2 separate regions of the Homo sapiens genome follow, and region 1 is linked to region 2. Evidence: fine-mapped QTL for protein levels in blood plasma. Region 2 holds a variant in brackets. A gene starts in the other region. All regions are shown on their forward strands.

Region 1 (5,362 bases), not on the chromosome of region 2:
ACCTCTCCCTCTGATGAGCCCGTCTTGCAGACATGAGCTTCTCAGCAGCGGTGGAGGTGGTGTACCCTCTCACGTGTTTTTATTCATTCATTCATTCATTCATCAAACATTTGTTGACCACTGTGAAACTGATTGGAACAATTCCTACCGCACGTGATGGAAAACCTCTATGGGCCATTGGCTTAAATAAGAGAGATGCTTCTTCTCCTCTGTTGTGAAACAAGCCTGGAAGTGTGCAGCCCAGGGACCAGGCTCAGGGTCACTGGGACCCAGGCTCCCTCGGCCTTGATGTGTCACCTGAAGCCATCACCTCATGGTCCAAATTCGTTGCCCACCTCCAGCCTTCACGTCCACACTCCAGGCAGCAGGAAGAAGGAATGGAAAAGGACCAAAAAGGGGGCGTACCCATGTAACCCCCTCCACCTGGAGTGTGCTGGACCTCATTCTGTACCCAGTCAGTCCTGCTCACCTGTCAGGTTCAGCTCCCCTAATCCATGCATCTCCTTCCCACGACAATGGGGTGGTTATTTGTACAATAACCATTTGTTGCATACAGTTGGCCCTCCATGTCCACAGTGGGTTGGTTCCAGGAAACCCCTGGCCACGCAAATACCGAAATCCGTGGATGCTCAAGTCCCTTATATAAAATGGCATAGTATTTGCATATAACCTACGCACATCTTCCCATATGCTTTATTTTTAATTTAACTTTTTTATTTTTGAGATGAAGTCTCACTCTGTCACCCAGATGCTGGAGTGCAGTGGCGCCGTTTCGGCTCACTGCAACCTCTGCCTCCCGGGTTCAGTTGTACAAGTGATTCTCCTGCCTCAGCGTCCCGAGTAGCTGGGATTACAGATGTCCGCCACCACATCTGGCTGAGTTTTTGTATATGTAGTAGAGAGAGGGTTTTGGCATGTTGGCCAGGCTGGTCTCGAACTCCTGACCTCAAGTGATCTGCCCGCCTCGGCCTCCCAAAGTGTTGTGATTACAGGCATAAGCCACCGCGATGGCCCTCCCACATGCTTTAAATCATCTCTAGATTACTTATAATACTGAGTATAATGTAAATGCTACATGAATAGTTGTTATACCGTATTGTTTAGGAAATAATGACAAGGAAAAAAGTCTGTACGTATTCGTACAGAGAAACCCATCCTAGGCCTACCTACAAGGACCCAGTCCATAGTGGGTTGAACCCACAGCCAGGGAACTCACAGATACAGAGGGGCCAACTGTAATGGGTCTCCGTGAGGGTCTAACTCCGCAAGGGCAGGGACCCTGCTGCTGATTTCACCACTGCAGCTCCACTGCCAGGCAATGGACGGTTGAGCTCCCGTGCAGTGGGCATGGCCCAGGTGACCCTTGACCCTTGCTTGAGTTCTCAGCTTCAGGGTGGTTTTTCCTGGTGGTGGACAGCGCTTCTAAGGAAGATGGGCTGGCTCGAAGGCAGCGGGGGACATCAGGCTTTCTGCTTGATTTCGATTACTCTAATGGTGACCCACTTTGTCTGCTGCACACTGGGCTGTCTTCAAGATGACAGGTTGACAATGACTGCCATTGGGTCATTACTGAGCAAAGAGCCATTAGCACACTGGCTGTGGTTCCAGCACAGTCTGTGCCGGGAGGCAGGTGTCTGTCATCCCAGGTGTGCTGGCCTCATTTGTCTGAAGGAATCTGCCGACCTCAGGAAACCCCAGCACGCCTTCAGGCCACTGCCTTGCTTGTCTGTAGCCTTCCCATGGTCACCGCACTTCCGGGCCAGGGTCCCAGCCAGGGTTTATACCGAGACCCACTCACCCAGACTAAGCGGGAAGCAAGACGGTGGGTGTCATCCCACGTGGAAAAAGAACTTAGGGACCTGGAGGAATCAGGCATGGGCATGTTTATTTTGAATACATGTGTCTAATTATTCAATGGAGCTTTCTTAAATGAATTCAAAATACATGTGAAGATTTGTTTCCAGTTGCTTAATGTCTTTTTAATAAGGAGGCTCTGACCAGATAACCTACCCTGAAATTTCTTTTTCGTTTGTTTTTTGTTTTTTGTTTTTCGAGACGGAGTCTCGCTCTGTCACCCAGGCTGGAGTGCAGTGGCACGATCTAGGCTCACTGCAAGCTCCGCCTCCTGGGTTCACGCCATTCTCCTGCCTCAGCCTCCCAAATAGCTGGGACCACAGGCGCCTGCCACCACTCCCGGCTAATTTTTTGTATTTTTGGTAGAGACGGGGTTTCACCATGTTAGCCAGGATGGTCTCGATCTCCTGACCTTGTGATCCACCCGCCTTGGCCTCCCAAAGTGCTGGGATTACAGGCATGAGCCACCGCACCCGGCCTGAAATTTATTTTTCTTTTTTTCCTTTCTCTTTCCTCACTTTCCTTCCTTCTCTTTTCTTCTTCTCCTTCTCCTCCTCGTCCTCCTCCTTCTTCTTCTTCTTTCTTCTTCTTCCCTTCTCTCTCTCTCTCTCTCTCTCTCCCTCCCTCCCTCCTTCTTTCTTTCTTGACAGAGACTTGCTCTGTTGCCTATGCTGGAGTGCAGGCTTGATCGTGGCTCACTGTAGCCTCAACCTCCTGGGCTCAGGTGATCCTCCCACCTCAGCCTCCTGAGCTGAGTAGCTGGGACTACAGGCACGTGCCATCATGCTTGGCTGATTTTTAAAAAATATTTATTTATTTATTTTTAGTAGAGATGAGGCCTTGCTATGTTGCCCCAGCTGGTCTTGGACTCCAGGGCTCAAGTGATCTATCTACTCACCTCAGCCTCCCAAAATGCTGGGATTACAAGCGTGAGCCACTGCGCCCAGTCTGAAGTTTCTTTGAAAGCAAAAAAGGAAACAAAAAGAGTACATAGGCCCAAATGAAGACAGCTGAAAGTTTAATGTACCTCAAATTCCAGCCCATGACTAAGGGATGGACTTTGAGTCTCTTTTCGAATCCATCTCAAGGATTTAGGTTTAGAGTTTGTGCTCCTTTAAACAGACTAAGAGCCTCTGTGACAAAGTAAATAGAGAAAATAAGTGTAGTCAAGCTCTGGCAGGATTTGGAAGGGGGCCTAACGTGGAAGAAAGGAGAAGGCTGGAATTGACTAAGATGTGCTATGCACTGGGCTGGATTTGTTCTCAGCAGAAAGCAAGAAAGAGCTCTGGGATGGTAGCAGGGCTCCCACTACCACCGGGGGCCAAAGGTTGCAGTATTTCTCAGGTAGCCAAGAGGCACCCATGAGCCCAGCCCCTGCCCACTCCCTGATGTCATCTAGACACAAGGACATGGGGCATGAGAGGACATCATTGTCACTTCTCTGCAGAGTCACAGGAACGTGCCCTCTGCTCCTCCGCCTCTCGGCTGTCCTTCTGCCCACGGCTGGCCCAGACTCTCATGGCGACTCACTGTCTCCCACGCCCCCACTCCCGGCAGGAAACCACTTCAGGGTTTACTGTGGGCTCCGAAATCAGCCTGTGAGTCCTAGTTAGGGTCCCCTGTGCCTGACTCTCCTCTCCCCAGGCTGCAAGAAATAGGGATGACCAGAAGTCAAACTGTGCCCTTGGGAACACCCCACCCCTCACCACTGTCGTGCCAGGAGTCTGTTCCTAAGACCCCTCCCCAAGTCCTGTCTCCTCCTCTTCCTCCCATAAACCACAGCAGACACTCAGCCACCAGGCTGCAGCCCTGCACCTTCTCCAGCAGCCGCTGGCCTTCGCCAGAGTTCTTGAAAGCCCAGTTGTCCTTCCCCAGCCACGTGGAGGCAGACGGATCTCTCCTGGGGGCAGCCTGTAGCTGTCTGTGCAAAGGTTCCCAAGACTAAAGTGTAGAGGACAGGTAAGATGACACTGTCATGATCATCATTCGTCCTGTGCCCTGTGGACATCAACCCACAGATGTGACATCAACCCATCTGATATTGAGCCCAGTGGGTGGGGAGATCCTAACCCAGCTGCTGCTGTTGAGGACTTGGGTGGTGTCTGGCCAGTGGGAGGGGAGGTCAGGCGAGTTTTCAGCAGATGACCCCGTGCTCTTCGGAAGCCCGGAGGTGCCACACTGTACAAGTGTGATGCCTGGGATCCTGTGCTCCCCTGATGCCTGGGAATGGGGTGAAGGAACAGCCTAGGCTTGGGTTCTCTCCTGGGTTGTTTCGGGACTTGGCCCCAGCTCAGGAAGGGTTTGTGGAGGAGCCAAGGAGGGCCTTGTTCCTGTGGGATGTCTTTGCCTTGGGCACAAGGACAGCCTCTTGCTGCTGCTCTGCCCACCGCCCACCCCTTGGCGGCCTCTGGGAGTCTGGGCTGCTCTCCCTCTGGACCTAACCAGTTGCCCAATGGCTGGACCTGCTTAAAGCTCCCTCTTACAACTGGACCAGGCAGCCAGGGGAGGCACTGAGAGGCCGAGCTTCTGAGCTGGTGCCTGTGGATGCTCGACGGTCCCGCAGCTCCCACAATGGGATGGCCAAGCAGACCCTGAGATCCACAGCCCCCCTTTAGTGAAACAGGAGGGAGGTCGCTGGGCACAGGGAGCCGGGAACGCCTGCCCTCCCCGCCATCGACGGCTCCCGAGGCCTGAACCTTCGCTCCAGCCCCAGCACAAGCCGGCCAGGGCGCAGGGCCAAGTGTTGCCCGCCATTCCCCGGGTACCCCATGACCTCCCAGCTGGGGCTGGCTCGGACTGAGGAGTCGTCCCTGCCCGTCACCCTCTGGGGTCTCCAGTGCTGCGGAGCTCAGCTGGCTTTTGCAGCGGTAGGGGCTGGGAGGAGAAGCTGCAGGGAGACCGCAGGCGTGGGACGTTGTGGGGGGTCAGGCTTGCTCTGGGGCTGGGACCCCGGGGGGAGCAGTGGGGTTGACGCCACAGCGATGACTTGGGCCACGGGTCTGGGGGCTCTCCCGCGGGGCGATTGGGCTCTGTCTTTCGGGATTAGGGTCTCTCCCACAGGGTTTGGGGTTCTCTCTGCAGATTTGGGGGAGTCTCTCCCGCGGGATGAGGGGGGGCTCTCCGCCGCACCCGCCTATGATGGCCCAGAGGACCCGAGCTCGGGTCACTCCCGTCGCCCTCGGGGCTCGGCGAGGGTGCAGGAGGCGGGCGCTGAGCCGGTGACGCGACTCCGGGCGGCTCCCGGGTGCGCCGCATATATAGCAGCGGCGGCGGTGGCGGCGGCCACACCGGGCGGCGGACACGTGGAGGGACCCGGCCCGCGCCTTCTGCCCCTGCTGCCGGCCGCGCCATGCGGTGAGCGCCCCAGGCCGCCAGAGCCCACCCGACCCGGCCCGACGCCCGGACCTGCCGCCCAGACCCGCCACCGCACCCGGACCCCGACGCTCCGAACCCGGGCGCAGCCGCAGCTCAAGGTACTACTGGCGCCGGGCCGACCCTGCGCCCCCGG
Region 2 (5,371 bases):
TACTTACTGAAATATTATTTTAAAAAACCTATCACCCCCAAAATTGAAGTGACACAGTGTCTGAAATCCCTTCATTAGAGATACATGCCTTTGATGGCCGGACGTGGTGGCTCATGCCTGTAATCCCAGCACTTCGGGAGGCTGAGGCGGGCAGATCACCTGAGGTCGGGAGTTTGAGACCAGCCTGACCAACATGGAGAAACCCCATCTCTACTAAAAATACAAAATTAGCTGGGCATGGTGGTGCATGCATGTAATCCCAGCTACTCAGGAGGCTGAGGCAGGAGAAATGCTTGAACCCGGGAGGCGGAGGCTGTGGTGAGCTGAGATCGTGCCATTGCACTCCAGCCTGGGCAATAAGAGCGAAACTCCATCTCAAAAAAAAAATTTTTTTTTAAGAAGGGCAATAATTAAGTTTATTTAATTATGTTATTAGTGACTTATCAGTTTTATTCTCCAATAAACACAAAAACCGAGTTGGGTAAGATTACAGTTCAATTCTCAAACAACTGAGTCCTTATTACATGCCAGGTCCTGTGTTTGGTGTGAAGCCCAAAGATAACTAAGACATAATCCTGTCCTAGAAAAGCTTACATTCTAGTCACCAGAATATTGTATGATAGTTTCTTTGGGGTCTATGACAAAGCCAAGCACAGGATATGGAACACTTAGCCCGCCCTGGAGGATTGACGAAAGGCTTCCTGGAGGAACCATCAACTTACATACCTTCTCCATGCCTTCTCTGGCTGCCTGCCTGCCTGCCTTCTTCACTTTTCTACTGGTAAACATAGCTGCCTCAAGATCCACCTCAAATGTCACCTCCTCTGAGAGGCCTTCCTAAGTCTCAGAGGCAGAATGAGTCCCTCCCTCCTTAGGCCTCCTAACCCTCTTTGCCCAACTGTATGATAGCATTTCTCACATCTTATGTGGTTCCTGTGTCTATCCTCCCTCCATCCCCCAGCCCACATAGATCATGAACTTGCAATAGACAAGAGCCACTTCCCATTCATTTCAGCCTTTCCAGCTCTTACCACTGTGCCAAGCATGTAGTAGATAGGAAGACCACTGTGTTATTATAGTTGACTGGAGACTTCTCTGATAGCACCGGCTCAGAGCTGGATTGTGTATCTCTAGGCCCTGAGTTGAGTGCCAGCTGGGATACAGGAAGCAAGAACTGCCCACCAACATTAGTGACAAGCCACTCCCTGACTCCATTCAGCCCAGTACATACTTACTGAGAACCAATTGAAAAAAGAATTCAGGCATCACTACTGGAATACCTACTGCTGTGTACCAGATGCTTTACATACATGATCTCATTTACTCCATGTAACAACTCTGGAAAGGGTTACTTATTCCTTTTTATCAGCTAAGGAGAGAGGCTCACAGGGGTTATTGATCCAGGGTCACATATCACCCGGGGTAGTCTGCTGTAAAGCCTATCTGCTGTGTCCTGCTCCATTACAACACAAGGGAAAGTATATCTAATGAGAGATGAAAACTAAAGGTCCAAGAGTCACGCAAGATTTAGAGAGTGCACATGGGAAGGTGGCCATCAGAAATGTCTTCACAGAGGTCAAGGCAACGAATAAAATGGAAAAAACAAGTAGAAAGATCTTGAAGAGATGTCCTTCTTGGTATAGCACTGGATGCATCAATGCATGCTAGGAAAGAAACACGGTGGGGTTGGGGGATCCTTAGATATCCCTCTTGGGGTGGAGACCATGTCTCCAGTCTTCTCTTGGTTTTCTCTCACTGGTCAGTGAGGAGGGGGAGAGAAGTACATACTGTTGTTGTCCCTAGAAGTGCAGGAGTGAAAACACACCCCACCCCTCCTTCCATGACAGAGTAGAGAGGATCTGTTTCTCCCCTTTCCTCTCCCTCGCCTTGGAGTAAGGAGGCTGCCTTCCTCCCTAGAAGAGGTATTTCTTTTTTGTCTCACCATAGGGTGTGTGTGTGTGTGTGTGTGTGTGTGTGTGTGTGTGTGCGCGCGCGCGCGCGCGTGTGTGTGTGTGTGTGTTAGTAACAGCGGATTATTCCCTTCCCCCTCTTCTGGGGGCTGGGGAGATGACATCTTTCTCCCCAGCGTTGGGAAAGGAGGTGGTTCTTTTCCTCCTCACTACAGGGTGTTCGTGCTTGTGTGCGTGTGTGCGCGCGTGATTGGGATGACTCCTTTCGTTCTCACCTCCGCATAGGGAGGCTGACACCTCTTATCCTTCCAAAAGGAGTGGGGTCGGTTTCCTTCGCCTCCATTTCAGCTGGGACACGGCTCTTTTTCTCTCCAACCAAAAAGATGGTGGGGCCTCTGGTTCCTTTTCCTTCCCCTGGGGAGAAGGCCTGGCTCCCACGCCCTCCCCGCATAGTCACGCTCAGGTTGCTGGAGGCCTGGGTCGCCCCCTCCTGCAAGCCCCGAGAGTCGCCAGACGCGCGGCTAGGTGCCCTCCGTGAGCGGGGCGGGGCCGCCTCTGCGGCGCGGGGCGGGGGCTATCTCTGGCCCCGCCCCTGCCCCGCCCGCTCCCTCTCCGCGAGCCTCGCGCCGCGCGGGTTGCCTGGCCCAGACCGCCGCTGCTGTCTGCGGGGTCTGGTGCCGGGGCCTGAGTCTCTGCTGGCTAAGCCGCCGCCTCAGCCGCCTCAGTCGCCTCAATCTCGCCTTCCGCCCTCGCTCTCCCTCCGCGCCACCAGACCCCGTAGCCCCGCGCGCCCCCAGCCCTTTAAGCCAGATGATGAACTTCCTGCGGCGCCGGCTGTCGGACAGCAGCTTCATCGCCAACCTGCCCAACGGCTACATGACCGACCTGCAGCGGCCCGAGCCCCAGCAGCCGCCGCCGCCGCCGCCCCCCGGTCCGGGCGCCGCCTCGGCCTCGGCGGCGCCCCCGACCGCCTCGCCGGGCCCGGAGCGGAGGCCGCCGCCCGCCTCGGCGCCCGCGCCGCAGCCCGCGCCGACGCCGTCGGTGGGCAGCAGCTTCTTCAGCTCGCTGTCCCAAGCCGTGAAGCAGACGGCCGCCTCGGCTGGCCTGGTGGACGCGCCCGCTCCCGCGCCCGCAGCCGCCAGGAAGGCCAAGGTGCTGCTGGTGGTCGACGAGCCGCACGCCGACTGGTAGGTGCCGGGCGCCG[C/T]CGCCCTCGGGGGTCGGGGTCCGCCGGCAGCCGCAGGCCAGGAGAGGACGGTCCCAGGTCGCCGAGGAAACGTTTCAGACCAATAAAAAGGAGGGTCCCCGAGGTCCCGCTGGGAGGAGGTGCGGGCTGAGCGCGCGCGCGTTTGCGGGGTGAGGGAGGGCATCCATCAGCCCGGAAAGGCGAACCCAAAGCTAAAATACCCCTCAATTGCCCCAGGTCCCCCAGGTCCCATACAAGAAGGAGCTACTTTATGCAACAGGAAAGGCCCTTAGGAAATAGTTTTTTTGGGGGTAGAGGAGGGGACACACTTGTTAGCTTAGACACATAAAATCTGAAGTGAAATAGTCCCAGGAGGCCGAAGGAACATTTAGGGCCAGTAAAAAAGGTTTAACTTCATGAAGCACGGAGTGAATTTGGAATGGAAATTGGTATTTTGGAGGGAGAAGGTGGTGGTGGGTTTTTTTTAACCAGGACCCATGAAGGCTGATATCAAGTATTGACATCAGGTTGATGAAATCACACATGTAGTGGCCCAGGTGTACACGGGCTTGTTCCCCGGAGCATGGCTGAAGTCTCTTTATGAATAATAAAATTGTTGTATTTTGTGCAGCAGGGAGGGGACGTGTGGAATTTTTTTTTTTTTTTTTTGATTGCTTGTTTTTCTGAAATGTGCGTGGTGGGGGGCGGGGCGTGGAAGTGAATGGTAGCTTTTTCTAGCTGAAAGATGAAGACCTTGGTAAAATATACTGGATCATTAAAGGGGTACAAATAAAAGGAGACCTGCCTTAATGTAGTAGATGGGAAACTTCAATAATTTTTTTTTTCTTCTAAAGAGATAGGTAGCATGTTTCCAACTTAGAATGGTGAAGGCTGCTGCTTGGTAAAAGTACGAATGAGGTCCACTGAAGACAAATTAGTTAAAAGCGGCTCTATTTTATAGTTAACCTAGGGAATGGTGGGATGGTGAAATTGATAGGTGAAGGGCTTGGAGAAATGAAGAGGCCGAGAATCTGGGGGTGCCTTTTCTCCAGGAATGTGAGCAAGGGTTTTGTTTTTTTTTTTTTCTCATAGGGGTTGAGGTTGGAGACTGGACCTGAGTGTTCTTCCCAGGAGGGGTGCACAGAGAGACCACAGAGCTATTTCTCTCCATTTCCTCTTTTGGCTGCTTCACTGCTTTCTCTCTCTAGCATTCTCTCTTTGGGAGACCCAGAGGGAGGGAGTGCTGGCGTGTGGGTGTGGTGGAAATGAGATGCAGATGTGGAGATGCCCTCCTGCTGGCTGCTAATGTCACCATTCTGAATAGTCCTTTGGGTGACTTATGTGGTTGGCCTTTTCAAGAGAGTAGAGTAGAAAATCCGAAAGGACTTTTGCCAGGAAATGACAAAGGCACATGGAAGAGGGTAATGGGGAAAGTGTAATGCATATGATAGTGCCACTGGCAGCCCTCCTTAGAATTACTCTGACTCAGTTCATATCAACAAGTGCTTATTACGGAGGAAGGGAAGGTAACCAAGCTAGTAAAGGTGCTCAGTCAGAGCATCCATTATATGCCAAATGCTGTACTCTCAGCATGATATCTCATTGCATTTTCTTCACAAAACTGAGGCTTAGGAAAGGTAAGTAATATGTTTACAATCATGTAGCCAGCAAGTGGTAGAAGCAGGATTTGAACTTAGGCCTGTTTGACTCCACTGCTTTCATTCCACTGTGTTATATTGCCTCACTATTATTATTAGCAATATTAATAACAAGCTCCCTCTAGGCAGTGTGGGGGCCTTTTAAGAGAACTCACTCAAATTGGGACACAAAGTGGATACATGAAACAGTTAAAAAGAAATCTAGAATTATTGGTTGAGACTAGTGTTTCAGGCAGTCAACAAATGGAGTGGTTAGTGAGAGCCAGAGTTATTGGAGAAAGCTTCACAAAAGATGAATCTTGAAGAAAGGCCAAGAAAAGGAAGAGGAGAAATGAGAATGACATTCGTGCTTTATTTTTCTGTGCAGGAATTTGACCCTTCTGTACCTTGTCCTGATTTCTTATCCTATTAAATGCACTTGTTTTGAGTCTTATTGCCAGTTAGGTATCTATAGATAGGTACTGATACTTATTTGTATGGGTATGATGAAGCTGCTGCAGATTTCTGTTTAGTTATAAATGCTTCTGTAGCTTAAGATTTGAAACTCTCTTTGGATAGTATTCTCTAGGAAGCCTATTTGGCATAAACTAGAGAATTTGCCTTGCCCTGGAGACTAGAAG

Which allele goes with the higher level. Alleles are on the strand shown, and positions count from the first base shown. The strength of an association depends on the size of the effect and on how common the allele is.
As copies of T replace C in region 2, the plasma level of the protein whose gene starts at base 5,139 in region 1 goes down (strong association).

What was found. PIP is the chance, under the fine-mapping model, that this variant and not a neighbour inherited with it causes the effect. The UK Biobank Pharma Proteomics Project read protein levels with antibody pairs (Olink). The fine-mapping took linkage between variants from a reference panel, not from the people measured, so its PIPs are less certain.
Region 1: it holds the start of GAL, and the variant in region 2 is fine-mapped to the plasma level of the GAL protein (UK Biobank, PIP above 0.99).

The regions. Positions count from the first base shown.
Region 1 is chr11:68,679,406-68,684,767 of GRCh38, forward strand. It overlaps GAL (galanin and GMAP prepropeptide), which reads left to right and starts at 5,139. Exons shown (of 6, transcript NM_015973.5): 1 at 5,139-5,327. The region is part of intron 2 of LOC107984343 (a long non-coding RNA gene); the gene reads right to left. RefSeq lists enhancers at 3,858-4,533, 5,210-5,362.
Region 2 is chr3:12,001,832-12,007,202 of GRCh38, forward strand. It overlaps SYN2 (synapsin II), which reads left to right and starts at 2,557. Exons shown (of 13, transcript NM_133625.6): 1 at 2,557-3,097. The coding sequence starts at 2,721. RefSeq lists an enhancer at 3,256-3,756. The variant C/T (reference allele first, on the strand shown) is at 3,115.